3 linked regions of the Homo sapiens genome follow. The protein of the gene in region 1 interacts with the protein of each later gene in a pairwise test. Each region holds a gene or a part of one and is shown in the gene's direction. Other genes may lie near its edges.

The links.
Region 2: the proteins of C1orf21 (region 1) and DRAM1 interact in binary tests that used the Homo sapiens proteins (3 or more experiments, as listed by UniProt).
Region 3: the proteins of C1orf21 (region 1) and PPP2R5A interact in binary tests that used the Homo sapiens proteins (3 or more experiments, as listed by UniProt).

Annotation. Positions count from the first base shown.
Region 1 is NC_000001.11:184,381,678-184,392,086, forward strand, and holds the start of C1orf21 (uncharacterized protein C1orf21), read left to right. Parts: upstream 1-5,351; 5' UTR 5,352-5,691; intron 5,692-10,409.
Region 2 is NC_000012.12:101,912,577-101,922,579, forward strand, and holds part of DRAM1 (DNA damage-regulated autophagy modulator protein 1), read left to right. Parts: intron 1-1,597; coding exon 1,598-1,656; intron 1,657-7,532; coding exon 7,533-7,625; intron 7,626-8,639; coding exon 8,640-8,684; 3' UTR 8,685-10,003. UniProt on the Homo sapiens protein: Lysosomal modulator of autophagy that plays a central role in p53/TP53-mediated apoptosis. Not involved in p73/TP73-mediated autophagy.
Region 3 is NC_000001.11:212,349,333-212,359,335, forward strand, and holds part of PPP2R5A (serine/threonine-protein phosphatase 2A 56 kDa regulatory subunit alpha isoform), read left to right. Parts: intron 1-3,485; exon of another isoform or gene 3,486-3,618; intron 3,619-7,293; coding exon 7,294-7,344; intron 7,345-7,617; coding exon 7,618-7,737; intron 7,738-7,824; coding exon 7,825-7,952; intron 7,953-9,353; coding exon 9,354-9,455; intron 9,456-10,003. UniProt on the Homo sapiens protein: The B regulatory subunit might modulate substrate selectivity and catalytic activity, and might also direct the localization of the catalytic enzyme to a particular subcellular compartment.

The DNA of each region.
Region 1 (10,409 bases):
AGAGCTATCTAAGGTCTGGAAAAGCTGGTTACTCAGAGTAATTCACACATCATTGAAAGACCAATTAGAACCATTAGCAAGTTGTTAGCACTGACTTTAAACTCTGCTCTGATTTAGCCTGGAACCATCCAGAAGGAGCTGCGTCACCATAAGTGGCACCATTATAAAATAAAAATGCATAGACAGCCCTCCATTCACAGCTGCTTATTGGGTCCTTTACTTGTGTGTGTGCTGTGGTATCCCCAAAGGAAGATTTTAAACACCCCCCACCACACACACACACACACACACACACACACACACACACACACACACACAAAATCAAGCCTGGTGGAGCTAATGTAAAAGATGTGGAAGATCCCTAACAGTGTAAGGCTGTAGAAGATCCTGGATACTTCAAAAGTTCAGAAACTCAGAAGCTGAGATCACTCACTTAGGAGTTAGGGTTTGAGCCTGGTCTTGAAAGACGAGTAAAACTGAGGCAGAAAAACAGAGGAGATTGAAGAGAAAACATACTTCTTAACAGTTAAGGCTGGGTGCAGTGGCTCACGCCTGTAATCCTAGCACTTTGGGAGGCTGAGATGGGCAGATCATGAGGTCAGGATATCAAGACCATCCTGGCTAACATGGTGAAACCCCGTCTCTACTTAAAAAATACAAAAAAATTAGCCTGGCATAGTGGCGGGCGTCTGTAGTCCCAGCTACTCGGGAGGCTGAGGCAGGAGAGTGGTGTGAACCCAGGAGGCGGAGGCTGCAGTGAGCCGAGATCGCGCCACTGCACTCCACCCTGGGCAACAGAGTGAGACTCTGTCTCAAAAATAAATAAATAAATAAATAAATAAATAAATAAATAAATACAGTTAAACACATGGGCTCTGGCATCTGACTAATGAAAATCAACTACTTTACCTTGCACTCATGACTTCACCCCTCCGTGCCTCTGTTTCCACATCTGCATGGGAATGATGATAATATTAGCATCTATCTGAGTGTGTTGTCAGGAAGATGAGTTAGTTTGTATTATGAATTACATGATGCCATGCTTGACATACAGCAGACAACCAGTGTTAGCTGTGATTGCATGGAGCAAATGGAAAGAAAGCACATTTCAGAGTAGTCTTCAGCTTAGGGTCACTTATTTTTGAATGTCTCTGCCAAAGCTACTTTTGAACTTGATTATTCAGAAAAATTAACTTTATGGGAAAACCTTTAAAAAATAAACCACATAAAATGAATTCATTTAGATTTAGATGAGAAGTTATAGGAGAGTGGTGTGTTGCTTTTACTATCTTTTAAACAATCATATATTTTCCTTGACAATCAATGATAAAGGGAACCTATTGTCTTGGTGGGTTCAGGCTGCTGTAACGAAACACCATAGACTGCACGGTTTAAACAAAAGATATTCATTTCTCACAGGTCTGGAGGCTTAAAGTCCAAGATCGTGATGCCAGCCTGCTCAGGTTCTTGGTAGAACCCCTCTTCCTGGCTTAGATGGCTGTCTTCTTGCTGTGTTCTCATATGCGGGTGGGAGGGAACAAGCTGTCTGGCTTTTCTTATCAATGCACTAATCCTATCATGAGGACCCCACTCTCAAATTGTCAAACTCCAATTGCCTCCTAAAGACCTCACATTCTAATACCAACACATTGAGGGTTAGGGCTTCAAACATTCAGTTTGGCCTACAAAAGCCCATGGAAGGGCATATCATATTTAAAAGAAAAAGAAGAAAGAAATAATTCAAACCATTATGTTATGTACAGTCCTACAGATGCAAGTCTTTATCAGCTAAAGCTTTAGGACTAAGAGAAAATTGATAATGAGAGTGGTGCCTTTGAAGATTAAAATGTAACTTTTCTGGGCAAAAAGAATATTAAATTTTTGGAAAATCATATTTAGAGTGTTTGAAGATATGGAATCCAGAGATTCTGGTGGTGTGGAAGGGTGATGCAACCAGGGGGAAAAAAATCATGTTCTTCATTCTTTTTATGTAAATATGCTTATAGTCATCTTACTAATTATAAATAGCTACAGAGATTATTCTGTGATAAAATGTCTAGTAGATTTAGCTTGTGCACACCAAGCAGATTTGCAATTTGTGGCCACTCCTGTTGCACAGTTAGTGAGTTGGTGTGCATACCAATGCCCGATGTGCCTCTCCAGCACCTTAGTGGCCAACCTGTCTGTCCCCTCCCCTCCCATTTTGTTCTTCTCTCCCTCCTTTCCTTCTGCAGCCCCTATAGAAGTCCCCAGTCCCACTGCCCCTGCTGTGGCCAGGTGCAGGGAAGTGTGTGTTGGTGGTGATGGGAGTCTCCCTCTCACCTCTTCTAAATTTGTGGGGGAGGGGAGCAGAGGTGTCCCGGGGATCCCAGGTAAAATGAGGAACATTTCACATTGAAGCAATGTTTATCAAAGCAGTTAATTTCTATAGAAATTCCAGCACCAGAGAGAGTAGGTTTACTCAAAAGCAAATGGGGCTTAGACCTTCATTTACATGAGCCCAATCAAGGGGTTTTTGTACTTTTGTCTTTCTTACATTGAAGGTAGCTCCCCAAATTGTTTCACGACCTTCATTTACATTAGCCTCTCCTAAGGGGTTTTAGTACTTTTGTCTTTTTTAATCTTGAAGGTGGCTCCCCAAATTTTAAGTGCTTCAAGTCCCACAAAATCTGGATTGTCTCTGGTCAGCATGGTCATTTAATTGTGGGATTCCTTCCATGGGCTTTTGTAGGCTATCCTGAGAACCTTACTACTGTATAAAATGTTGCTTCTGTGGAGCAGTTTCTATGAGAAACAAACAACACTTACAACACATATACAATCTTTTCTTGTATTGGTAAATTGTCTGATCTCTAACTAGGTACTTAATAAATGTTTGTTGATTGAATGATGATGAAATAAATGAAGGGAAAACAGACAAACTTGAGGCACTTATTGAATGCTTTTCTCTAGATGGTGGAATTATGATTTTCATTTTCTTTGTACTTAGCTTTTTTCAAATGTTGAAAATTTCCACAATGGACCTGTATTATCTTGAGTAATCTAAACCTAGCTTTAAAAGTTCGTAGTATAGATGTTCTTTCATCTACACATGTATGAAGTGCTTCTTCTGTGGCCTTCGGTTAGTTCTAAGGATATCAAGCCAAGCAAACCCCATAGCCTTGCCCTCAAGAAATCTACAGTACCAAGCACTGTCTGAGCCCTGAAGGGGTACACAGGTCAACATCACAGAGCTCTGTCTATTCAGGGTGGTCTATGTAGATGAGAGAAGGAAAAAGGAGGGGGAAGAACAAAACTTATTGTGCTCAAAGATCCTTTTATATGGATGTACACACACACACACACACACACACACACACACACACACACCCCTCAGTTATGTATTTATTTCATTTTACCACAGGCAAAAGTTTCAGGCAGGGCGTAAAAACCCAAGGGAAGAGTGGACTACATTTGAATAAATCCATCAGCTGTGTCCATTCTCCTCCCTAACTTTTCAGAAGGAATGGAAAGAGAATAAAATTCTACCAAATTTGAGTTTAAAATAATCAAGTCTGAAACAATAGCTTCTATTTATTGAGTTCTCACCCATGTGTCAGGCACTATGCAAAGTGTTTTACATGCATTGCCACCTCGTTTTATTTTCTTTTTACTTTCACAAGCTTATGAGGTAGGAACGATCATTATCAATGCCTTTACAGATGAGGAAAGAAAGAAGAAATGAAACAAGTCACCAGTGGTGAAAGGGATGGGGCTGGCTGCCCCTGATTGAAATCTCAATTTATCTACCCTCCCTTCTTAACCGCTCCTTTCCAAGAGGCTAGACTACAAAAAATTTGGGCTCCAAGAAGTATGAACCAGAATATGGATATTTTGTAAAAATGGAATGTAAGTTGAGGTTCCTGAACAATGTGATGTTAGGCAGGGTGCGGTGGAATTGGCCTGTAGTCCCAGCTACTTGGGAGGCTGAGATGGGGAAGATCCCTTGAGGAGGATCTCTTGGGTTCAGGAGTTCGAATCCAGCCTTGGCAGCAGACCCCATCCCTGAAAACAATAAAAATTAAAACAACAACAGTGGGATACTAGTCTTTTAATTTGAAAAAAAAAGGGGTGGAGAAAGGGAAAACCAGTTTTCAAAAAAGGCCAATTTCCTAGACATTAGTGGTTGATTACTAACTCATTTCATTAAACTAAATTATGAATTGGCTTTTCTCGTCAGTGTCACCACTCTGATGGCGTTCTTTTCCATTTTCCATCTTCACCCTGGCCGAATGTGGGAAATGATCTGGTTTGTGCATAATCCGCGAGGCCCAGGGAGGATCTTTTGCCCCTATTGTTTTCTTGGGTGTTCTCACTCTGGGGGCCTGACATTCCTCGCGTGTCTAAGGCAATGAGGGAGCAGTGAAGCGCGGGGAAGCCGCACAAAAGACATCCAAAGGCTATCAATGGAAAAAGATCAATTAGGTGCACACAAGAAACACCCAATATGCCAGGGAAGAGAAAAATACCCTTTTCCAGAGGGTGGGAAATTGATTGAGCTTCTGTGAGGGTCCACAAAGAACTGGACGGATGCAGTGGTGGATGGCGATCTCTCTGGACCACTCCGGACGCGCCCAGCAGACGCAGCCTACGCCTTTAGGTCCTAGGAGGCTGAGAAGGGTGGGGAGAGGGGGGCAGCACGATCTTGTGTCTTTCCTCCCCGTGCCGCCTCTACCGAATCGCGGATGCTTCATTAATCTTGCAGGCGCCGCAGCTCGGGTCAGTATGGAGGCGGATCGGTGGCAGAGCCCGGGCCTCTGGGCTGCGCCCGCCCGTTCAGCCTGGCCCGGGAGGGGAGCGGCCGCGCGGTGGGCCAAAGACGCCCGGCCTTCCCTCCGTCTGCTTCCAGCAGGCACAGCCGGGAGGCTGGGCTCAGGGGCTGACCCGAATCTCCCCTAGAGCTGGGCCCACCCGGCTGCCCCCCGAGCAGCCTCGCCGCTCCCACGCCACCGCCCAAGTGACAGGCCCGGGAAGGCCGGACGGGACGCAGTCTTCCCGCCGGGGTCTTCCCTCCGGCTGGCCGGCCGCTGCAGGGCGCGCGCGCACACACGTACACACACACACACACCTGCCCACACACACACACACACACACACACACACACTGCCGCCTCCTTCCCGCCCCGCAGCCCTAGCAGCCCCCAACCCGCTCCCCAGCGCGCTGCGCCCCGGCGGCCTCCGCAGGCCCCGCCCCGGGGAGGAGAGCCAGGCGCGCGCGGGAGCTAGGCTCGGGGAGGGGCCGGCGGTGGGGGAGTGTCTGCTGCCCCCGCCCCTCGAGTGAGTGACTGAGCGAGGAGCTCCCCTCCCTCGCTCGCTCCTCGCAAGCTCCCGCTCGCTCCCTGCCCACTCCCGGGGGGACGTTCCGTGCCGCGGCCGCCGCGGCCGCTGCTTCTTTCACACTTTAGTTGGGAGCTGCGCGCCGCGCTCAGTTACTGGAGAGCTGGCCGCGCGCCGCCGCCTCCCGCACGCTTGCACGCGGGCCCGGCTTCGGGGTTTTGGGTTCTTACTCCAAGCGGCGGGGAGGAGGGGGAGCCCCGGACACACTGTGGGGAGGAGGAGGAAGAAGAGGAGGAGGGAGGAAGAAAAAAGACGAGGAGGACAGGGGCGGGGGGCGGGAGGCTTGCCACCTTCAGCCCCCCCGCGAACGCCCAAGGTAAGTGTGAGCCATTGCCTGCTCTGGGGCGGGGGGAGCTGGCGGTGCAGCCCGCCCCGGCTCGGCTACCCGGGCATCCCCGGGTGGGCAGGGAGGGAGGCCTGCGGGGTGTCTGCCGCACGGAAGGGATGGGAGCCGCGGTCGTGGCGCTGCCTGCGCGGGGCCCGGGCCGGGGCTGCTGCTGGTGCGGGGCTGGCGGGGTTGCTGCCAGGGACGGAAGCTGGGGTGGGGGAGCCGCGAGGGGCGTCTGCCGGCCTGGGCGGAGGGGCTGGGATGTGGTCGGGGCTGCTGACGACTTTCGTCACATCGAGGCCTGGGTGGCTGGTGTTAGACACCCCTCCCTTCCCACCCGCACCCTGCCGCCCTCAGCCTTCCTGCTCTCCTCTAGCTTTGCATGTAGCCACCGTACTTTGCAAGCCAGAGCTTGAAAGGAAAAACACAATTTAGGATCCTTTGCTAAGTATCCAAGTCCCTTCTCTCGCTCCGACTGATTGATGTGTTTGTGTGGGTGGTTTGACCCCCGGGATTTCTGAAGTTTTGACCTTTTTGGGGTGGCTCGTTTCGTTGCATCTGTTTGCCCACCTCGGTGTATTTATTATTCGTGCCCATGCGAGGCAGCCAGAGGGTGCTTGGTTATTGTACACGAAACAGATTTCACTCTCCTCTGCAGGCAGTTCGCGAAGTGCCGCCGCCGCGGCTGCCTTTGGTCTGCTGGTTAATGTCCTTTCCCTATCATCCACCCTGCTCCCTCCCTCTACGGAGGGTTAGTTTTTGTTTTTGTTTTTGTTTTTTCCTTTCCACTTACTGTTTGTGTGAGAGAAGTCCTGGGCTTAAGGGCTCTCAGCACTCGTTCATTTCTCTTCTAAAGCTCTGAATGGCTCAGGCATGTCGGTAAAATTTGGGGTGGTCCTCTTTGCTCCAAGAGTTGCATGGCCAAAGATAAAAATATGCACACATAAACACGCATTAATTCTGAGAGACGGCAAGCAGTTTGAGAGAGAAATAATTTGTTTTCAATAGGAAGTCGGTGACCTATGGGATCTCTTCCATTGCCGGTGGGTTAGGAAAATTGTTTTAAAATAGATAGTGCTTGTGTTGTCCGTGGCTGGAAGACAGCCATAGTTCAGTTACTGAAGCAATTCTGAAAGTGATACACCCTGGGCACCCAGAACCTCAGTAAAGACACACGTAGTCTGACTCAGATGTTAGGAAGGGGACTGACACACCATAGATTCCATGGAGTATTTTTTTCTTTCTTTTCTTTTTTTTTTTTGTAGGAGACTGTCCAGACCGTTTGGGGAAATGACAAGTTCATTACACAGACAGATGTAATGAACACCTCCCTATTCAAGGGGATGGGTTCAGCTTCTGCCTAATAGGAATAACCTTTTGATTTGATAGAATTGGAATGTACCAGGATAGAAACAAACATAGGTGGAGTGGGCCTGAGCTACTTCAGCACTGTTGTGGGGAGAAGGTGATGTTTCTGAAGGGTCTTTTAAGTTCAAGATGCTGAATTTGGAGTTTTCCCCCCTTTTTCATATTGTCTAGAGCTGGATTGTAGGATCAATAGAACATGTTCCATGTTGGCTGTTTGGAAATGTAATTGTCAGACATGGAAATTAATTTGGATTGGATCACCTATTTTTGTTTTGCTACTTACAAAGTAGGAAGTACCAGTGATAGGACAACGGAGTGTATTTATAGGCGTTAAACCAATGCTGGGACTGGTACTTCACAGATCACAAATGCAGCGTTGAAAGAGGATGTCACTCAATGTTTACTGCTGTGCAAACCTGCTTCAGAGAACAGTCCTGGAGGCTTCTAAAAAGGGCAACAAAGACCAGTGCGCTCAGCTCTTGGGTGGGTGGGTGCCTGAGGAGGGGCGGGGTGCTTCTGTTGTCTAGCTTTGTCACAACTGGGCATGTTTCCAAAGAAAAATGGCCTTGGGTGGTAGAGAGGTCTCACATCCTCCAGTGTTAAAAGTTCATCCTAGAAGGACCTTAAAGTTCCAGCTTTCCTTCTCAGGGTTGACTTAATTTAACTCCGAGTTTAGAAAACTGATAATTTTGTTTTCTTGGCTAGACATTTATCCCTCCTCCGCCCCATCTCACTTTATCATTCAACATGGGTTTCTGGGAATTAATAGGCCACTGTCTGAAGGGGTTTGATTCTTGAAGAATCACAGGGCATCATTCAAGAGCTTTGGTACTATTTGCTATGACTTATTCAAAAATCCTACTAAGGAGGAAGGTGGTTTGCTCTATTATAATTTCCAAGTGAATCATGCCTCAGTACTGTGTTGCCTTTGTGACCAGGCAAGCTTTGAGTTTTACATTCTGAGTGGCTTGCTCCAGGCTCTAAGCAGCCCCCTTCTATAAGACGTTTTTTTGTTTTTGTTTTTTGTTTGTTTGTTTTTGTCTAAAGGAGACACCAAAGGCTGGGAGAGGGAATGTCATGTCACCTTCCAATAGGGCAGGAGAAGGCAGGTGACATATTTACAGAAGAGTCCTAAGGTGATAAATATGACTGTCTTCATTTGAATTTATCAATACAACTTACAGCCATATAATGAGGCATCTTGTGTAGCTCACATGTTTAAGTACAGAGGTCTTGGGGTTCTGTATCCTTTGAAGTTTCCTTCCAGCTCTACTTTGAGGGTGGCCCTAACTAAAGGGTAATCGTACAGTAATTCCGGAGGGAGATTGTAGGATACTGCCAGTTAACAGAGAAATTGGTGAAACCTCACTGTCTTATGATACTTTGTTTTCCTCCAGCTTCTTAGAACCAAATATAAAGAGAGGAGAGAGCATTGCTTTGTTTGTATTTTCTCTCCTGATGTTTAGCTGGTATCTTAGAGTGTGGTCACTGCTCATTTCAGGTGATTTAAACTGTTTCATTCTGCACCTCCTCATGGGTGGAATGGAATCCAGACGCATCAAAGAGTTAGGAAAGGGTATGTACACATGGGTAAGCTTCAGACTCCAGCAAGTGCTCTGAGCAGCACAGTGCTGATTATCAATCAGGAGTGAGGGTATGGCAGGTCTGATCTTACAATGCAAGTTTACATGAAAATAATTTGTATGTGAAAGTTGATTTGCCTCCAGTTTTTTAGGAACATATTGACTACGTAAATCTACTTATACATCTAGTCAATCAGAATTCACTCAGAGATATTGGGTCGATCAGTCTTCATGAAAATATACATCTCCTAAAAATACTATTTTGGAAATGGATATAGTGAAGCCTCCCTCCCAAGGTGAGGGAAGGGTTACATGATATATAATACAGGTTGGAGGACCCTACACAATGTACGTGGTGGGTACTCAGATGACCTTTTTTTTTCCAGCTTTACTGTGTAAAGATACTTTTATGAATAGGCTTTTAGCAAACAAATACATCTTTGGCCACTTTATGGTCCTTCTTTGAGCCTCAATTTTAAAAGTCCCGTAGCATGCAGTAAATAAAAATTATGCTTAATTGGGTTCTTCATAAAACACAAAAAGCAGATTGCAATAGACCAGTATAAAGTACTGCTTAGAAAACTGAAAAAACAGGGATAGGGCTTGTGTACAAGAAAGATTGCGACAGTGAAACTATATTTTAAATAATGGTGACAGTTTTGACTTCCAGAGATCATAATTCAAGAGCTTATCTGAAGTGGCATGTAAATTACATACATACATATTTTTTAAAGTAGGCAATTATTTAGCTTGACTGTCTCGGTTCTGAAGTTTAATTTTACAAGTTATAGTTGCAACAAGAAACAACATGACATGCTGTGGTTATGCAATTATGACAAGAGTGGTTGGAGGTAAACTGGGCTAGGATAAACATAGAAATGAGCACACAACAGTGTCTCCAGTCACCAGGTATTAAGAAGTTTCTTTGCTTTTTTGTTAACTATATTACTAGAAAATGTATTTCCCAGGTTGTAGGCTAATCACCTAAACTAATGATTGCTTTCTCTTACATTTGTGAAAGGAGATGCAGCTTCCCCAGTCTAAAATGGAAGCTGAGAAGACTAATTGGCCAAGCTACTGGAAGGCTAGGCCCTTTTGCTCATCTCAGCAACCCCCATAGCAGCTAGCACACTACTTTGCACTTGGAAGTCACTCAATGAGTGATTGAATGGAATGGAATTTACCTAATTAGTTAAGATCTGCAATGTGTCAAAATTTCCTTGGAGAAATACATTAGATGTGGACTTAAGTTTTAATAAATGTGTATGGTAGTTTATTAAGAGCCCCATATTATGCCTCAGGTAGGATTTTTAAATGTTGAGACACATTTGACAGGAAACATACCAAGCATGATGTCCTCTCAAATTATTGAAATTTCTTTCTTTCTTTTTTTTTTTTCGAGACAGAGTCTTGCTCCGTCACCCAAGCTGGAGTGCAGTGGTGCAATCTCACTGCAATCTCCACCTCCTGGGTCCAAGCAATTCTCATGCCTCAGCCTCCTGAGTAGCTGGGATTACAGGCAGGTGCCACCATGGCTGGCTAATTTTTGTATTTTTAGTAGAGACAGGGTTTTGCCATGTTGGCCAGGATGGTCTCGATCTCTTGACCTCAAGTGATCTGCCCACCATGGCCTCCCAAAGTGCTGGGATTACAGGCGTGAGCCACCGTGCCCGGCCCCCAAATTACAAGAATTTCTAGTTAGGAGCATCTTGATTTGGAATAGATATAATTTCTGTATTTGACAGGCGTTCCTTC
Region 2 (10,003 bases), on another chromosome or scaffold:
TGATGAAATGATCAGAGAATCTTCTGTGCTCTCTACTTCTTTTATTTTGAGAATCAGAAGCATTAAACTCTGCACAATTTGCGGGGGGTTGGAGTTAAGAGAGATGACGCTGACTCTGAATTCAGAGGAGGCTCTAAACTTTCCTTGGCTCAACATTTTTTTTTTTTTTTTTTTTGAGACAGAGTCTCACCCTGTTGCCCAGGTTGGAGTGCAGTGGTGCAAATTCAGCTCACTGCCACCTCCCAGGTTCAAGCGATTCTCCTGCTTCAGCCTCCCAGGTAGCTGGGATTACAGGTGCACGCCACCATGCCCAGCTAATTTTTGTGTTTTTAGTAGAGACTGGGTTTCACCATGTTGGTCAGACTAGTCTCGAACTCCTGACCTCAGGTGATTCGCCTGCCTCAGCCTCCCAAAGTGCTGGGATTACAGGTGTGAGCCACTGCGCCCGGCCTAACATTTTGAATTTCTAATATTTTGCAGACTTTTTAGAGCATCCCATTTCTCTCTAGCTTTCTTTTTTGCATTCTAAGTTCAATCAAAATGGTTATCACTGCCTTCATGCAGAAAGTATTGCTGGTGGAAGATAGGAGCCTCAGCCCCTGGCATTATTAGGCTGGACTGTAGGCATGTGTCAGTCATCCCTGAAGTCTGATATGGGGCGAATCTCTTTGATTTGCCAGATCTTTGGTCCAGGAAGGAAGGGCTCACCTTATACCCAATTACCCAACAGAAGTCTGTTTTTTAAAGATAATAGTTTGAGTTTCTGTAGCTTGTTTTTGTATATGAGCCTTGGCACTTTGGAATTTAAAATTTTCCTTAAAGCTGTTACCTTGGAAATAGTATTTTAGGCCGGGCACGGTGGCTCATGCCTGTAATCCCAGCACTTTGGGAGGCCGAGGTGGGCAGATCACCTGAGGTCAGGAGTTCAAGACCAGCCTGACCAACATGGAGAAACACCGTCTCTACTAAAAATACAAAAAATTAGCCAGGCATGGTGGTGGGTGCTTGTAATCCCAACTATTCAGGAGGCTGAGGCAGGAGAATGCTTGAACCCAGGAGGTGGAGGTTGCAGTGAGCTGAGATCGCGCCATTGCACTCCAGCCTGGGTGACAGAGCGAGAGTACGTCTCAAAAAAAAAAAAAAAAAAAAAAAGGAAAGGAAAATAGTATTTTAGGGAAAAAGTATTTTTATTCAGTGGGAAGTATTCAAAAAGAACCATCCTGGACTGCTGCGTCAGTCATTTTGACCGAATTTAAACAGCTAGTTTAAATGGGAAGATCCAGAAACATGTAGGGTTGTGCAAAATGTAGTGACAAGTTTTAATAAATTTTACTATACACACTGGAAAACTATTGCGAAGGTATTTCCGTGTTGTGATTTAACTCTCATCATTGAATTTGAAGTTTGAGTTTATAAGAAGCTAATATAACTGGTTTGATTGTAGAAATGTTGGTATTAACATTTTAATTGATGATAGAAATGTTGGTATTAACATTTTAACACCTTATAATGATTATGTTATTAGGAGAATAATGTAGTCTTAACATTAAAGGAACTGTTGTGTGCTGTAGTTTCCTTAACTGTTTACTTCTTTCAGTGATTGTCTGTGCTTCACTAATTTCCATAACCAAGCTGGAGTGGAATCCAAGAGAAAAGGTAACATTTAAGTTGTTGTGAATGTGGTTGTCGGACGTGGTTATGTGAGCTTGTGGCCAGGCTAGGCATAGGGAAGATCACTGCCGTTCCTTAGAACAAGTTGCAAAATGTCAAATAAACATGGCATGTAATCAATTTACTGTCCAATCATTTGGCAGTATGTAGTAATTAGCTATCAGGGTAATTCCAAATGCTTCCTGGAAGTATTTTCAAAATTTTGAGTTCCTAATTTCTTTCTTTCTTCTTCTTCTTCTTTTTTTTTTTTTTTGAGACAGAGTCTTGCTGTGTTGCCCAGGCTGGAATGCAGTGGTGCAATCTCAGCTTACTGCAACCTCTGTGTCCCAGGCTCAAGCGATTCTCCTGCCTCAGTCTCCCAAGTAGCTGGGACTACAGGCACCTGCCACAAGGCCCAGCTAATTTTTGATTTTGTTTTGTTCTTTTCTGAGACAGAGTCTCGCTCTGTCACCCAGGCTGGAGTGAAGTGGCGTGATCTCAGCTCACTGCAACCTTTGCCTCCTGGGTTCAAGTGATTCTTGTGCCTCAGCCTCCCGAGTAGCTGGGACCACAGGCGTGCGCCACATGCCTGGCTAATTTTTGTATTTTTAGTAGAGACAGGGTTTTTCCCATGTTGACCAGGCTGGTTTGGAGCTCCTGGCCTCAAGTGATCCCCCCGTCTCGGCCTCCCAAAGTGCTGGGATTATAGGCGTGACCCACCGCACCCGTCCCTCTAATTTCTTCCTTTTCTTTCTTTCTTTTTTTTTTTTTGAGACAGAGTCTCGTTCTGCCGCCCAGGCTGGAGTGCAGTGGCACAATCTTGACTCAGTGCAAGCTCTGCCTCCCGGGTTCATGCCATTCTCCTGCCTCAGCCTCCTGAGTAGCTGGGACTATAGGCGCCTGCCACCACCCCCGGCTACTTTTTTGTATTTTTAGTAGAGATGGGGTTTCACCGTATTAGCCAGGATGGTCTCGATCTCCTGACCTCGTGATCTGCCCACCTCGGCCTCCCAAAATGCTGGGATTACAGGTGTGAGCCACCGCACCTGGCCTTTAATTTCTTTCTTAAACACTTCAACTATCTATCTTTAGTAAAAGAGGGTAGAGGGACAGTGTGAATGAAGGTGTTTGGTGGTGAAAGGGAGCGTGGAATGTTAAGTAGAGAGGATGATACCAGCTCCAGTGTGGTGGATAGTTCATTTCAGGATAGAGTGAGAAATCACTGCAGCCGGGGATAACTGTGCAAGGGTGTAGTGGCTGTAAGAGGCAGGCAGAGAGGCTTGTACTTGGCCTAGGTGACCAGAGTAAGACTTTGAAGACTTTTTTTTTTTTTGAGACGGAGTTTCGCCCTTGTTGCCTAGGCTGGAGTGCAATGGCGCGATCTCGGCTCACTGCAACCTCTGCCTCTCAGGTTCAAGCAGTTCTCCTGTCTCAGCCTCCCAAATAGCTGGGATTACAGGCACTAGCTGGGATTACAGGCGTGCACCACCATGCCCAGCTAGTTTTTGTATTTTTAGTAGAGACGGGATTTCACCGTGTTAGCCAGGATGGTCTTGATCTCTGCACCTCGTGATCTGCCCTCCTTGGCCTCCTAAAGTGCTGGGATTACAGGCGTGAACCACCACGCCCAACCTGCAGACTTTCGAACGGTAAAGCAAATAGAAAGAGTATTATTAGATGAGTGTTAGACAGAAGCAATGCCTGGGATGGCTTGGAGAGCTTGGCATTAGGAGGGCAAGGAGAAGGCAGTTCTACTAGTTCACGTTTCAAATAGGGGAAATCTGATGGGTGTTGGCAAATGATTAACACAAGAATGAAGTGGCATGATGAATCAAAGATGACTTCTAAGTTTTTATCTTAGGTGAACCAAAGAATTTATTCCCTTGACCAGAAATAAGGCCCCTAACAGGGATAAATAATTTAGTAGGTGGAAGTGGATGAGTTTGGTTAGAGTTGATGATTCTGAGGATATGATGAGATATCGAGGTTAGAAACATGGGCCTAGGCCAGGTGCTGTGGTTCATGCCTGTAATCCCAGCACTTTGGGAGGCTGAGGCAGGAGGATTGCTTGAGTCCAGGAGATGAAGACCAGTCAGGGTAACACAGTAAGATCCTGCCTCTACAAAAATTAGCCAGACGTTGTGGCATGCGCCTGTAGTCCCAGCTACTTGGGAAGCTGAGGTGGAAGGATCACTTGCACTCCGGTGGGCCTAGACTTCTGGTGGGACTGGGAGTCGTCAGAGTGTAGGGTAGAGTTGTTAGAGTATGGGGTAGACCAGGACATTTTGGACCAAGCATCAGAACACATGGAACCAAATGTTTGACATTGAGATCAACCCATCCTGTTAGATACCTGTAGTAGTGGTTCATCTAGACGCCTTATAGGAGAATCAAGGATGCCCCAGGAAAGAAGAGAGTTAGTGAGAGACAGAGGATTCTTTCCCCCAAGGATCAGGTGGAAGAATACCTCCAGCAAAGGAGAAGTAAAGGGATCATGGACCAGAGAGAAGAACTAGACTTGTGCTGTATGGTAGACCTCATTGATGAGTCCCTACCACATGCAAGACTGTGAAAGATTATAGAGGGCAGGGTGGCCATGGGATAGAGGATCCTGAGGGATTTTATAGTTCAGAGGGGCAAACAGCCAGTTGTCAATGGCTAAATGTAATACTTTGAAGAATAAAAAAATGCTGAACTGGACTTCAGACAACACATTGTGGAAATGCAGAAGCAATAGCAATTAATCCTAACGATGGAATGAGAGGAGATACGATCCCAGAGACTAAAGGACATTTTTCAAAGGCAAGGGAAATGGCTAACTATGGCATATGCAGCTGAATAGCCTTTAGGAATGAAGTCCCTCAATTTGGGCAATAAGGGAGTCAGTGATGTTTGTCAAAAAGTAGTTTCAGTAAAACGCCGAGGTTAGAAGCCAATGGCAAGAAGTTAAATAGTGAGAGGGATGGTTCTTTCATTCAGCTATCAACCAAATGTTTATTGAGTCCTGTTCTGGACTGGAGGTAAGAGGTAAAGGAGGAACACCAGGGTGGCTAGAGGAGACAGCAGGATTTCCCAATATGGAGAACTCTGGCAGGTAATGGAAGCCTGCCAAGACAAGAGAGAGACAGAAGATGGTGAGGAAGAGAATGATCCAGACAGGAGATCAAAAAGTGCTTCTTGGCCGGGTGCGGTGGCTCAGGCCTGTAATTCCAACACTTTGGGAGGCCAAGGCGGGTGGATCACTTGAGGCTAGAGTTCAAAACTAGCCTGGCCAATATGGCGAAACCCTGTCTGTACTAAAAAAAAAAAAAATTTTTGGTGTAGTGGCACACACCTGTAGTCCCAGCTACTTGGGAGGCTGAGGCAGGAGAATTGCTTGTACCCAGGAGTTGGAGAGCTGGAGGCTGCAATGAGCCGAGATCATGCCAATGCACTCCAGCCTGTGCAACAAGAGTGAGACTCCATCTCAAAAAAAAAAAAAAAAGCCTTCTTTAAAATCTAACCTTAAAATGGTCAAATTCGTCAATAGGTTAGACCTAGGCAAAAGGCAGGTTTTTTTCTTTCTTATATATGGGGAATTAGCCCCATCATGCGAAGGGGGTTCAGTTCCTCTTTCCGTTGGAGAGAACCTCTTTCTGAAAGTGAGACCGCATAGCGGAGCAGTTCAGGTGTACTTTACTTTTCAGCCACTCGGGGGAGACCTTCTATCACAAACCCGCTGCTGGGAAGGGCTTATCGAAGTATATTCCCAGGCAGTTAAAAATCTGTTATATTCCACTTTCTATCTTAAAAATGTGAAAAGCACATGGTTTTCTATTCACTCCATAAATGACTGCGCCACTCTTGCATTTCCTTCTGTTCCTAATATCAAAGGATGTAAAAAAATTTCCCTTTACATTAATTCACTGAATAATCATTTAGGTACTGCCTCAAACTTCTGTGTAGTGCTTTACAGCTTTCACAGCACATTTATATGCAGTGACTTACTTGGTAGGGGGAGGTGAGAATTATAATGTCACTGTCTCATTTCACATAGCAAGGATATTAGGGCTTTGCCTGCATTCAGGACTCTTGGTTCCATGTACTTTCACTAATATCATGCTTAAGAAATTCCCCCCAAAGTTCTGCCTTTATTTTTAGAAGCCATCTTCCTTGTTCAGGGATGATACGGGATGTGGCAGGTCCCCTGGTACTGGTACCAGAAGGAGGAAGCCTCTGTTCTGTATCTCCTACTGTAGGCTGGTCAGGTCCTCCTCGGTGTGACCTAGCATGAAAACAGTGGGTGAGTGTGACCATGACAAGGAGAGTGAAGAGTGACGCTCGGAGGGCTTGGTGTGCCTCCACTCGATCTGTCTGGATGAAAACAGGATCAAAGAAAACAACTGTCACCATGGAGCTGCCCTGTGATCCAGCACATTTACTTACCCTTGTAGCCTACAGCAGTTTGGGGTAGAAGAGCAGTGGGCTCAGCCCTCAACAGCACATGCCAAGGGCAGAGCAGCCCATGTATGCAGCTTCAGAAGGCATGGGGGTGTAGGGAGTTAGGGGTAGTTGCTCATTTCAGCAGAGCAGAAAGTGACGTAGGAAATCAGAGGGGGCACACTGACAGTCCCCAGGCCTCATTTGGCATGTGAGCTAACATCAGAATGCAGACATGCATATTTGACTCAGAGTTTTATTTATTTTTATTTTATTATTATTATTATTATTTTTGAGACAGAGTCTTGCTCTGTCACCCAGGTTGGAGTAGAGTGACGCAATCATGGTTCACTGCAACCTCTATCCCCCAGGCTCAAGTGATCCTCCCAGTTCAGCCTCCCAAGTAGCTGGGACTGCAGGCGCAGGCCACCCCACCCAGCTAATTTTTTTTTGTCTCGTTATGTTGCCCAGGCTGGTCTCAAACTCCTGGGCTCAAGTGATCCTCCTGCCTCAGCCTTCCAAAGTGCTGAGATTACAGGTGTGAGCCATTGCAACAGAGTTTTAAAATTAGTTTCCAGCACTGAAAAATCAGGAGATATCACACACAGACACATCCACAGACACACAGACACACACACGCACACACACACACACACACACGGTTTTGTTTTTTTAAACCCCTTTGAAAGCAACACTAGTGTATTATTTTCCCATGGAATTGAGCTGATGAGGCGTGGGCTCCCTAACTTCCCTCTCTTTTCACAACCATCAGTTTTATTTATTATTGTTAATTTTCTGGCCTCCATAGGCAACTGAGTTTGGAACATCTGATTGAAGCCATTCTCCTTGGCTTCCATTCTCCCATTCTTGCCTCCAAGAAGATATACAGTTAACATGTGGATGTCCATTATTAGCATTTTCTTTGTAGCTGTATTTACCTTGGGATGTTAAGCAGAACTATTTCCTGAATGATCATTTCTATATAAACAGGGAAACACGAAACCTAGGGGACTAGTTGGCCAAGTTCATCTAGATGTGTACACACTTTCTTTGGAACAACTGCGAGAGTGCTTGTTAAGCATAGCCTTACACTTAGGGATTCTCAGCAGAGCGAGACCAAGTCATGCCTTGTATGGAAATTTCTTTCTTCTGTTGAGTCCAAATTTGCTTCCCAGTCTCAGCCATTTTGCAGTCCTTAGTCTACCTTTTGAAGTGACAAACTAAATCTTAAAACAAGAGTTTGTGCGAGCCAGAAAGAACTTTGGAATACCTGCCTTCGCATTCTCAGTGGGCAGGTGCCCTGACACTTAGTAACGTGGTTGTGCTTACCGTATATCCTCAAAGTTCTGACTTATGCTCACTGGACAGCTTTTTCCTTTGGTTGAAACTCCTCATTGTATTTCAGTATGTACATTAAAGTGAGTCTTTTTCGGCTAAATTCTGTTTCTTTATTATTGCATTAGGATTATGTATATCACGTAGTGAGTGCGATCTGTGAATGGACAGTGGCCTTTGGTTTTATTTTCTACTTCCTAACTTTCATCCAAGATTTCCAGGTAGGTGTTTATCAATTCAAATGTTTTAAATTGCGGACAATTAGGATTAGTAAAAATTTGCAGAAGACATTTTGCATTTTTAAAAAGAGCACTTTCTTTTTTTTTTTTTTTTTTTGAGACGGAGTCTCGCTCTGTCGCCCAGGCCGGACTGCGGACTGCAGTGGCGCAATCTCGGCTCACTGCAAAAAGAGCACTTTCTTTTTATCCTTAATGTGTTTGAGAAAAATCTGTAAGGATTGTGCAACTTCATGTGTTAGCTTATTCCCAATGGGAGGCATCTTTAATAGCTCTCCCACCAATGAGATTTTCATATGTCCTCTGCTGTTTGATGTTAATAGTCATGTATCCTGGTTGTTTTCTTTTAGGAGGTCTCACTTACTAGTTCCAAATAATACAAAGTAAATATATCTTTTTTAAAAATAAAAGTATGCCAGGTGTGGTGGTTCACATCTGTAATCCCAGCACTTTGGGAGGCCGAGGCGGGCAGATCACCTGAGGTCAGGAGTTCGAGACCAGCCTGACCAACATGGAGAAACCCCGTCTCTACTAAAAATACAAAATTAGCTGGGGGTGGTGGCACATGCCTGTATTCCCAGCTACTCAGGAGGCTGAGGCAGGAGAATCACTTGAACCCGGGAGGCGGAGGTTGTCGTGAGCTGAGATCATGCCATTGCACTCCAGCTTGGGCAACAAGAGCGAGACTCTATCTCAAAATAAATAAATAAATGAATAAATAAAAAATAAAAGTGTGTTGTTCAAAAAACATTCCCAAAGCAGATAGAAGATGGGACTATATCAGATTTGTCCACAGGAAAAATCTTACATTTTGAAACAAGTGAATTATTAGCTCAAAGGATATAGAAAGCCAAGAAAATTCTTTAGGACCTGACTCAAGCATAGCACAAACCATAGTGAGATCATTCCTTAGGTGGTGCAGAGCTGTTGGAAATGTCATTGTCAACGCTGGGATTGTTTAACTTCTTTTAAACCTTTCTCTTTCATTTTTAAAAATAGAGTGTCACCCTAAGGATATCCACAGAAATCAATGGTGATATTTGAAGAAAGAAGAATTCAGTCTCACTCAGTGAATGTCGCAGGCCATTTCTAAAAGTGCTACAGAGGACAGACAGGGTTTTGAGGCCACCCTGATTATTGGGATGCATCTGCAGCACATCCAGGACTTGAATTTCATTACGAGTTCCTAATAGTTGTATTTCTAAAGATGTGTTTCCTAGAGAATGTACAGCCTTATGACACTGTAGTGATGTTTTTATAATTTTCTAAGTAGATTTTTTTATATTAACAAATTCATATACAGAAAAAATAAGGTGTTACAAAAAATGGAGAGCTCTTATTTTTGTACAGATTCTGTCGTTTTTGTTTTATTTGTGTGAGATTTATGGAAATACACTAAATGAGTAATTCAGGTTCAGTACATTTATTACAAAGTGAAATCAGGGGATATTCATTTGTAAATTTTATTCTTAGTGAATGAACTGTATAATTTTTTTTATCAGGAGAGCACTTATAAAATTCAATTTATAAAGATCATATACCCAAATCATAAAGATTTAGTTGATACATTAACACTAAGATACTCTGATTTTTAGCCGAACTAAACAAAGTGCTTCTACTGAGAGGCCTTTATACCACCATGTACAGTAACTCTAAGTGAATACGGAAGACCTTGGTTTTGAAATTCTGCCACCTTGTTTCTCCCTGCTCATGAGGTCGCACCTTTTGCTCTTGCTGCTAATTGCCCATTCGTAGTGGGTGTAATGCCAGGTGGAATGGTTTCAACAAGTCAGGTGAAAACCATCCTTTATTGTTGCTGGCACAACTTGATATATAGTCTGACTCAGAACTGAAGCTCACATCTCAAATTCATTTCATGCCAGTAAATGTGGCAAAGAGAAGAAAGGCCCAAGAGCGAGACAAGAAGAATGGAGAAGGGGGCAGCCAAGAAGAACTTCTGGGTTCAGGGTACTGTTTATTTGCTCCTTCTCTTCATGCCTGTGGCTGGATGTCCCACAACACTATAAGAAATATAAGTCAAGCCCTTTGTGTTAAGCAAGAACTACAGACTCCATCTTTTCACCCAAATCATGAATGACCAATAAAAAGCAAGTTATTCCAGAGGAAGAAGCAGCCCTTGAAATGTTAAGGCTTAGGCTTGAAAGGTGAAGAGCAGGAATTCTCTCTTTCAAATCCTAGAGCATAAACCCATGTGTGGCCAAGTGAGATCAGCCCTCAAGGGCACATGCCAAGGGCAGAGCAGCCCATGTAGACAGCTTCGGAGGGCATGGGGGTGTAGGGAGTTCGGGGTAGCTCCTCATTAACTATTTGTTGGGTGAGTAAAGGGGTGAGGCTCAGTGGCA
Region 3 (10,003 bases), about 28 Mb from region 1:
GAATAATGTACGTTAAGCTAAAATCATTTAGAAGAAGAAATGTGAGATTAATCTACATTAAAAGAAGGGGTTAGGAGGGGAGAGTTCTCGTGAGTTATGTCTTGAATAACCGAAATATAGACTACTATTAATATGTAGTAGTTAAGATGTACGATGATAGGATCAGATGACCACAGTGAAATTTTATATGCATACTGTCTTCACCAATAATCTTTTAAATCTTCATTCACCTTTTGGAATTAAAGCATACTTCGAGGGTCCCAAAACTACTACTCCCTTGAATTTTGTTTTGTTTTTAATAATAGAATTTTTGCCACTCATTAACAATAAACCACTTGATAGGGATAGAAAACATTTCCTTGCTTTTGGTGATTAAGATATAAGATGTAATCTTGGAATAAAAGTAGTTTATGAACCAGCAAGGCAACTTAGGCTTTGAATTCTACTGTTATTTGCCTCTAGAATGAAAATTCAGGAGAGAGTGAAAACATAATTAGTTATGAAAATTTACTGAGGATTCAAGAAAAACAAAAGATGAAGTAGGGTGAAACAGAAAAGTATAAAAGCATAGAAAACATTTTAACCTTGGTGAAGTAAGTATTTTGAGAGAATGCTTTCTAGGCATGTTCAGTCTAAATATTTACCTAGTATTAGGTTGGTACAAAAGTGATTGCGGCTTTTGCCATTACTTTTAATGGCAAAAACCACAATCACTTTAGCAGCAACCTAATAAATATTTAGTAAATAGCAAAGGGTTTGAAAAACTAAAATATATATGTATTTTTACTATATTATGAACCTTCTCAGGCTATCCGTAGGGATGCTTGAAAAAATCATATACTTAGTATTCTCCCTTTCACTTGAACTTTGTGTAATGGAACAAAAGACATTTTTCCACTCCTTAATTTTTATTAGTTTTTTGACTTTTAGATTTACAGTCTTTTCTAGAAACAGCTGTAAACAGTTTTTGAAGACAATTCAGGAGAATTAGAAACCATATATTTGTACATGAAACCACATAAACCTCTGAAGTTGATTCCCAGGTGTGCAGTGGCTCACAACTGTAATCCCAGCACTTTGGGAGGCTGAGGCAGGCAGATAACTTGAGGCCAGGAGTTTGAGACCAGCCTGGCCAACATGGTGAAACCCTGTCTCTAGTTAAAATACAAAAATTAGCTGGGCATGGTGGCACAGGCCTGTGGTCCCAGCTACTCAGATGGCAAGGGCACAAGAATTGCTTGAATCCAGGAGGCGTAGGTTGCAGTGATCTGAGCTCATACCAGTGCACTCCAGCCTGGGCAACAGAGTGAGACTCTGTCTTCAAAAAAAAAAAGAAAAAAGTAAAACCTTAATACAAATCTATGATAACTCCCATTAGAATTAAGAAAAAGAAAACCCATAATAACACATATTGAAAAGTCATGGTTCATGCTTGGTAAATAGTATACAAATAAAATTTTATTTAATTAATTTGGGGTGGATAAGGAAGACAGGTGATTTATTTTTAAAGAATGGAAGATAGAGGCTGGGCATGGTGGTTCATGCCTGTAATCCCAGCACTTTGGGAGGCCGAGGCAGGCGGATCACCTCAGGTCAGGAGTTCAAGATCAGCCTGATCAACATGGTGAAACCCCATTTCTACTTAAAAAAAAAAAAAAAAAATTAGCTGGGCATGGTGGCGTGTGCCTGTAATCTCAGCTACTAGGGAGGCCGAGGCACAAGAATCACTTGAACCCTGGAGGCGGAGGTTACAGTGAGCCGAGATGACACAAAAAAAAAAACAAAAAAACAAAAAACCTTGACGATTAGGGAGAGGGATGATGGCCAGTTATTCAGCTTTTATCTGGTTTGGCTGAGTTGGGTTAATGAAAATAGGAGCAGGATGAGGAGAGAGAGTAAGATAAATACCCAGGTTAAGAAAGGAAAATATTTTCCAACTCATAAAGATCTCTCGATATAGAGATCTTGCAATTTCTAACATAGGCCATTCCAGCACCAAAATTACGGCCATATTACTTGGGTTTAAGCCTTAATACTAATTTTCTGGAAAGCAGGCATTCCTATCAAAGCTTTCTACAAATTATAAGTAGCTCAGAGCTTTTGTTAGTTTATTACTCAAGCCTGTAATCCCAGCACTTTGGGAGGCTGAGGCAGGCAGATCACCTGAGATCAGGAGTTCAAGACCAGCCTGGCCAACATGATGAAACCCCATCCCTACTAAAAATACAAAAATTAGCCGGGCGTGATGGCGGGCACCTGTAATCCCAGCTACTTGGGAGACTGAGGCAGAATTGCTTGAGGCAGGAGAATGGCTTGAACCCAGGAGGGCAGAGGTTGCAGTGAGCCGAGATCACAGCACTGCACTCCAGCCTGGGCAACAGAGTGAGACTCCGTCTAAAAAGAAAAAAGTGCAGAGTGGAAGAATTAACTAAATATTCATTACAGCTAAGTTTCCATGTAAAGAGGAAAAAAATGAAGAGTCGGCATGACTTTCAAAACTTTTATTTTTTTGGCAGTGTAAACCTTTCCTTCCACTCAAAGCTGCATTTTTATAAAACAAGCAAAACAAAACAAAACACCGTTCTTATTCCAAGAAAATCTAACTTGAGCCCCAAAATAATTTTTTTATTTTTCTTTTTTATTTTATTTTATATTTTATTTTATTATTTTATTTTTATTTTATTTTATATTTTATTTATTTTTTTGAGACAGAGACTCACTCTGTTGCCCAGGCTGGAGTGCAGTCAGTGGCACCATCTCGGCTCACTGCAACCTCCACCTCCTGGGTTCACGCAATTCTTGTTCCTTAGCCTCCTGAGTAGCTGAGATAACAGGCGCCCGATACCACGCCCGGCTAGGTTTTTTTTTGTATTTTTAGTAGAGATGGAGTTTCATCATGTTGCCCAGGCTGGTCTCAAACTCCTAAGATCAGGCAGTGTGCCTTCCTTGGCCTTCCAAAGTGCTAGGATTACAGTTGTAAGCCACTGCACCTGGCCCACATTGACATCTTTTTGGGGGCCACTAGTCAACCCAGTGTTCGTTATTCAATACTGCCCGACATTGAAATTTGTGTATGATGAGGGTAAGGAACTACATTTGGGTTTGTTTGTTTGTGTTTTGGGTTTTTTTTTTTTTCAGACAGGATCTCACCACATCACCCAGGATGGAGTGCAGTAGTACGATTGTGGCTGACGGCAGCCCTGACCTCCCAGGCTCAGGTGATCCTCCTGCCTTAGCCTCCCAAGTAGCTGGGACTACAGGCATGCACCACCATGCCCAGCTAATTTTTTTGTATTTTTGGTAAAGATGAGATGGGGTTTCACCATGATGCCCAGGCTGGTATTGATCTCTTGGGCCCAAGCCTGCCTTGGCCTCCCAAAGTGCTGGGATTAAAGGCCTGAGCCACCATGCCTGGCCTGCATTCATTTTCAATTACGCATATCAAATGATCACAAAATTTATTGGCTTAAAATAGCAAGCATTTATGGCCTTTATCAAAGCTGCAGCTGCTTCCATGTAGCTGCTGTGGTCAAAAAGAAGCCAAGAGTGACAGTTTTCCTTGATGGTCATAGTTCTGTTTGCTGTAACTGATCTGCAAGATTTTGGGAAAATACCATTCCATTGGGAGGAAAAATGACAAGCATTTGTTGCCTTAGTTGCTGTGAATCCAGAATCTGGTCATGGCTTAGGTGGGCCCTCTGCTCAGGGTCTCTTACAAAGCTGCAGTTGGAGTGTTGGCCAGAAGTTGAGTCTCATATAAAGTGTCAGATGGGGAAGGATCTGCTTCTAAGTTCACATGTATGTTGGCAGAATTCAGTTTGTCAAGTTATGTTGGACTGAGAGCCTCAGTTCCTGGCTGGCTGTTGGCCAGAGCCCACCCTCAGATCCTTGTCACCCAGGCTTCTCCAGCATGGCACCTTACTTCATCAAAGCCAAGACAGCGAGTCTACTAGTAAGACAGAAGTCACAATCTTTTGTATCTTACTCATGAAGTGACATTCTTTCACTTTTGCCACAGTCTGTTCGTTAGAAGCAAGTCACTAGGACAGCTCACACTTAAGGAGAGGGGATTACACAAGGGTGTGAGGACAGTTAACAAGCTCATGAGATCATCATAGAAGTCTGCCAACCAAAGGAGCCTGCTACATTTTTCCTTTCTAAATAGTGAGCTACCTGTCCCAGTACCACCACTGTTTCCCATGGAACTGAAAGGCCACCTTTGTCATATATTAAAATCCATATATACATGAGTATATCTAGATACTCATATATATCTTTTCTCTCCATTTCTTTGCCAATATAATCTTGTTTTAGTTGCTGATATCCATAATACAGGTTCTGTTCCATTAACTCCCCCCACCAAAAAAACAATTCTTATTTGCTTATATTTATGGATTTTAGAATAAATGTTTCTAGTTCCAAAAAATAATTCAATTGGCATTTGATTGAAATTATATTAAATTTACTTATAAATTAAGTACAGGAAAAATATCTCTGCACAATATTGAACCACCTCACTTATTTACAGTCATGTGCTGCATAATGACATTTCGTTTAATAACAGGCTACGGGCCGGGCGCTGTGGCTCAAGCCTGTAATCCTAGCACTTTGAGAGGCCGAGGCGGGTAGATCACGAGGTCAGGAGATCGAGACCATCCTGGCTAACACAGTGAAACCCCGTCTCTACTAAAAATACAAAAAATTAGCTGAGCCTGGTGGCGGGCGCCTGTAGTCCCAGCTACTCAGGAGGCTGAGGCAGGAGAATAGCATGAACCCGGGAGGCAGAGGTTGCAGTGAGCCGAGATCGTGCCACTGCACTCCAGCCTGGGTGACAGAGCGAGACTCTGTCTCAAAAATAAATAAATAAATAAAAATAACAGGCTACATATAAAATGTCAGTCCCAGACAGGCGTGGTGGCTCAGGACTGTAATCCCAGCTACTTGGGAGGCTGGGGTAGGGGGATCTCTTGAGCCTAGGGGGTTGCAGTGAACTGTGATCACACCAGTGCACCCCAGCCTGGCCGACAATGCAAGTCTGGACTGTCTCTTAAAAAATAAAAATGGAACTGGGCATGGTTGCTCATGTCTGTAATCCCAGCACTTTGGGAGGCCAAGGTAGGAGGATTGGTTGAAGCCAGGACTTTAAGACCAGCCTGGGCAACAGAGCAAGACCTCGTTTCTACAAAAAGTAAAAAATTAAAATTAGCCAGATGTGGTGGCATACACCCGTAGTCCCAGCTACTTGGGAGGCTGAGGCAGGAGGATCATTTAAGCCTAGGAGTTCAAGGTTACAATAAGCCTAGGAGTTCAAGGTTACAATGACCTCTGATCATGTCACTACACTCCAGCCTAGGCAACAGAGTGAGGCCTCATCAAAAAGAGAGAGAAATGTTGAGAGAGAGAGAGAGAGAGAGAAATGTGATTCCAAGAGAAAGAAAAATGGTGATCCCATAAGATTATAATGCTATATTTTTACTGTACCTTTCGTGTTTAGATACACAAATACTATTGTTACAACTGCCTACAGTGCCTACGGTATTCAGTACAAGAACATCCTGTACAGGTTTGTAGCCTAGGAGCAAAAGGCTACACCATACAGCCTAGGTGTGTAGTAGGCCATACCATCTAGGTTTAAGTACACCCTGTGACATTTAAATGATGAAGTTGCCTAATGACACATTTCTTAGAACGTATCCCCATCATTAAATGACATATAACTGTATTTGTAGTCTTCTATGATCTTCAGTAAAGTTTTATGCTTTTCTCCATATGTCTTAAGTATTTCTTGCAAATTTATTCTTTATGCACATTATAGTTGTTGTTGTGAAAAGTACCTTTTTATTATTCATCTGATTTTTACTGATGTTTTATAAAGGTATTGATTTTTATATATGTATTTTTTAATGTGGCCACATACTGAATTTTCCTACTCACTCTAGTAACTTGCAGGGTTTTTTTTTAAGTTTTAAGGGATATATAAATATACAGTTACACAAATAAGTGTAATTCTGGTATTCCTTTCCAACATTATTCATCACATTGTTATCTTACTGGATTGTCTCCAAAACAGTATCCTTCCCAATTTTAATTTGAATTAGTGTTCCACATTACTGGACCAGACAGACTATAAAGTAACCTAAAAAGCTGTCAAAGATCTATTTCCACAAAACCACCAGGCCTAGATGGTTTTACAGCCTGTCTCTAATAAATCATTATGTAGAATGATTGCTGGTGGTTTCTGATAAATTCTTTTAGTTCTAGCTTACTAAATTTTTTTATCAGAATATATAGTCAATTAAAAATGTCAAATGACTTGAAAATCTTTTAAAATGATCTGGGTTTTTTTTTTTTATTTCCCCTTTTAACCTATGAATGGAACCATCCTGGCATTTCTGGAATAAGTTACAATTAGGCATATAGCATTCTTCTATTGTGATTCAGTTTAATGCAAGTGTTTTCAACTTTGTTTATTTAAATAAATAGTCTCCACTTTGGGAGGCCGAGGCTGGTGGATCACAAGGTCAGGAGCTTAAGACCAGCCTGGCCAAGATGGTGAAACCTGTCTCTACTAAAAATACAAAAATTAGCTGGGTGTGGTGGTGGGCGCCTATAATCCCAGCTACTCGAGAGGCTGAGGCAGAGAATTGCTTGAACTTGGGAGGCCGAGGTTGCAGTGAGTCAAGATCACACCACTGCACTCCAACCTGGGCGACAAAGTGAGACTCCATCTCAAAATAAATAAATAAATAAAAATAGTCTCTTTTGTTTCATTGTATTCTGGTTATAAAGATTGTGCTAGCCATGAAATAGACTGAGAAGCTGTCCAGGGTTTTTTTTTGTGTTTCATAATGGTTTAAATAACAGGAATCATCTGTTCCTTAAGGTTTCTCCCTAAAATAACCTCCCTCTCTCACCCCACCAACTTATATTTTCCTTTATTTTCTTAGAAGTAGCACATACTATTAAATTGTTTTATTTATGTGTTTAATTGATCACTTGCATTGGTCTTCCTCCATTAGAACGTAAGCTCTGTGAAAACCAGAGACCTCATCTGTCTTGTACATCAGTGTGTCCCTAGCATCTAGAACAGTATCTGGTACATAATAGGCACCCAGTAAATGTTAGTTGAATTAATAAAATTCTAAAGCTGAGCAGAAAGTCTATTTATACACATATATTAAGCAATATTGATTTACTTCAGAATGAGTGTTGATATAATCACAGCTATGGAAAATACGCTGGGATTAACTAGCTTTGTTATTAAATTCATGCTAAACTTTTTCTTTTTCGCAGGTGATCAGAGGACTGCTGAAATTTTGGCCAAAAACCTGCAGTCAGAAAGAGGTGGGTTTTGTTCACTAAATGTAGTGCATTTTACTAGAACTTGTCAATCCCAGGGCTATAAACCATGCTTCTTTGGGCTGGCTGTATTGCTGTTGCTAAAGAGCGGGAGATGTACACAGACTTGGTAGAAGACCTGTGCTATAGTAAACTCTGCCATCCAGACATTTTTTTGCTTATTGTATACTATGCAGATTAACCTTCTCATTTGTATGGTTTCTATATTAGTTTCACATAATTTATCATGTTTCTTAAAATAAAATTTTTTTAACCTAGGTGATGTTTTTAGGAGAAATTGAAGAAATCTTAGATGTCATTGAACCAACACAGTTCAAAAAAATTGAAGAGCCACTTTTCAAGCAGATATCCAAGTGTGTATCCAGTTCTCATTTTCAGGTATGATGTTTTCAGTGAAGCCTTTACTTTACACTAGTATTTCTTTCCTATTTTAGTTTTGACATTTCTCTAAATGTCTTTTTTTAGGTTGCAGAAAGGGCATTGTACTTCTGGAATAACGAATATATTCTTAGTTTGATTGAGGAGAACATTGATAAAATTCTGCCAATTATGTTTGCCAGTTTGTACAAAATTTCCAAAGAACACTGGAATCCGTAAGTATCTTTTATATAGGTCGTATTTTTTTCTTTTTTTTTTTTTATATCTTTTTGTTATTGATTTCCTAACTCATACTTGAAACCTATTACAGATTTGGAAGTTACTCCAAGGTTAACATCAGTTGTATTCTATTCTGTATTTTATATACGTATACCTTTATCAAGTTATAAATGTGTGTGTTTGTTCAGTATGTGGTCTTAATGTCAATTTATTTTTAAAATTTTTTTAGAGACAGCCGGGCGCGGTGGCTCACGCCTGTAATCCCAGCACTTTGGGAGGCCGAGGCGGGCGGATCACAAGGTCAGGAGATTGAGACCATCCTGGCTAACACGGTGAAACCCCATCTCTACTAAAACTACAAAAAATTAGCCGGGCGTGGTGGCGGGCGCCTGTGGTCCCATCTACTCGGGAGGCTGAGGCAGGAGAATGGCATGAACCTGGGAGGCAGAGCTTGCAGTGAGCCAAGATTGTGCCACCGCACTCTAGCCTGGGCGACAGAGCAAGATTCCGTCTCCAAAAAAAAAAAAAAAGAGAGTCTTGCTCTGTTGCCCAGACTGGAGTGCAATGGTGCAATCATACCTCACCGTAGCCTCAAACTCCTGGGTTCACGCAATCCTCCTGCCTCAGCCTCCCGAGTAGCTACGACCACAGGTGTGCACCACCATACCCAGCGAATTTTTATTTTTATTTTTTTTGGACAGTTGAAGTCTCACTATATTGCCCAGGCTGGACTGAAACTCCTGGGCTCAAGTGATCATCTCACCTTGGCCTCCCAAAGTGCTGAGATTATAGGCATGTACCACTGTGCCCAGCCTTCATGTCAATTTAAAATTGCAAATCTCCCTGGAGGTTGTGGTCAAACCCTCTTGGGGAGACCAACTGAACATTTGCAGAGGATACACAAACTACTCCGTTAATGCAGAGTTGTGTTGGTCTACTCTCAGTGTATAGTCTCCCCTCTATAAATGGCACTGTCCCAGGGGAAAGCCGAAGTGCTAAGGGTAATATATTCTAACTTCTTTAACATCCTTATCCGGCTTTCTACTTTTCATAAGTTTTGGTAATTGGATCTTTTTCATCTTCTTTTAATGTTGTTACTCAGGATTTCAGACATGAGACTGTAAAGCAGAAATGAAGATAACTATAGTGAACATTTTTAACTAGAGTTTAATGTAAGCATGATAAAATGGAAAAGATTTAAGTTTTCTTAGACTGTCTCTACCACCACTTGCTGTATGACCTTGAGCATATTACAAACCTCTTGAGCCTCAGTTTTATCATCTCTAAAATGGATTAAATGAAATCAGCCAAGCTTTAACCCATTTTAGAGACCATAGTGTTACATTTCCTCTCTGTTAGCAGTATCATAACTCAGGACTGGCTCATTTTCATTTCAGGACCATTGTAGCACTGGTATACAATGTGCTGAAAACCCTAATGGAAATGAATGGCAAGCTTTTCGATGACCTTACTAGCTCATACAAAGCTGAAAGACAGAGGTATTTGATATTTTGAATTACAAAATTATCTATACATTTTATGTTAGTTGAATGTGATTCAGTTCAGGAAGGTATCTTCTCTCAGTTCAGATTTTCATATTTAAGAAGTTAATTACCTTATAGTAAACATTACAATGTGAAAGTCTCTTAACATATAAGTCATTTCCAGATAAACTAGCCCCAGTATTTTTATAAATTTGTTAAAGCAGAAAAAGCAGTAGCATTTATTTTTGAGGGTAGTTACATAATTTACTTCCTCTAAATGGTTAGATTATGATTTTAATGTGGATCATAAATCCTGTTTATCTCATTCTGAGCCTTAGATTTCCTCAGTCTGTTAGCATCTGCATATGAAATATAATTTATGCTGAATTTTAAATATCAATTTGTACAATTTGATTTTTTATCCATGCATTTACGAAAATCCTTTTTGTCCACGTGGGCTTCCAGAGTGAGCTTTACTTTTCAAGTGTTCTTTGTTAGCAGTAGGTAATTCTTACGCTGTGGATTATCAGAAGGTGGTATTTTAAAGTCAGCATAGTTCTCCT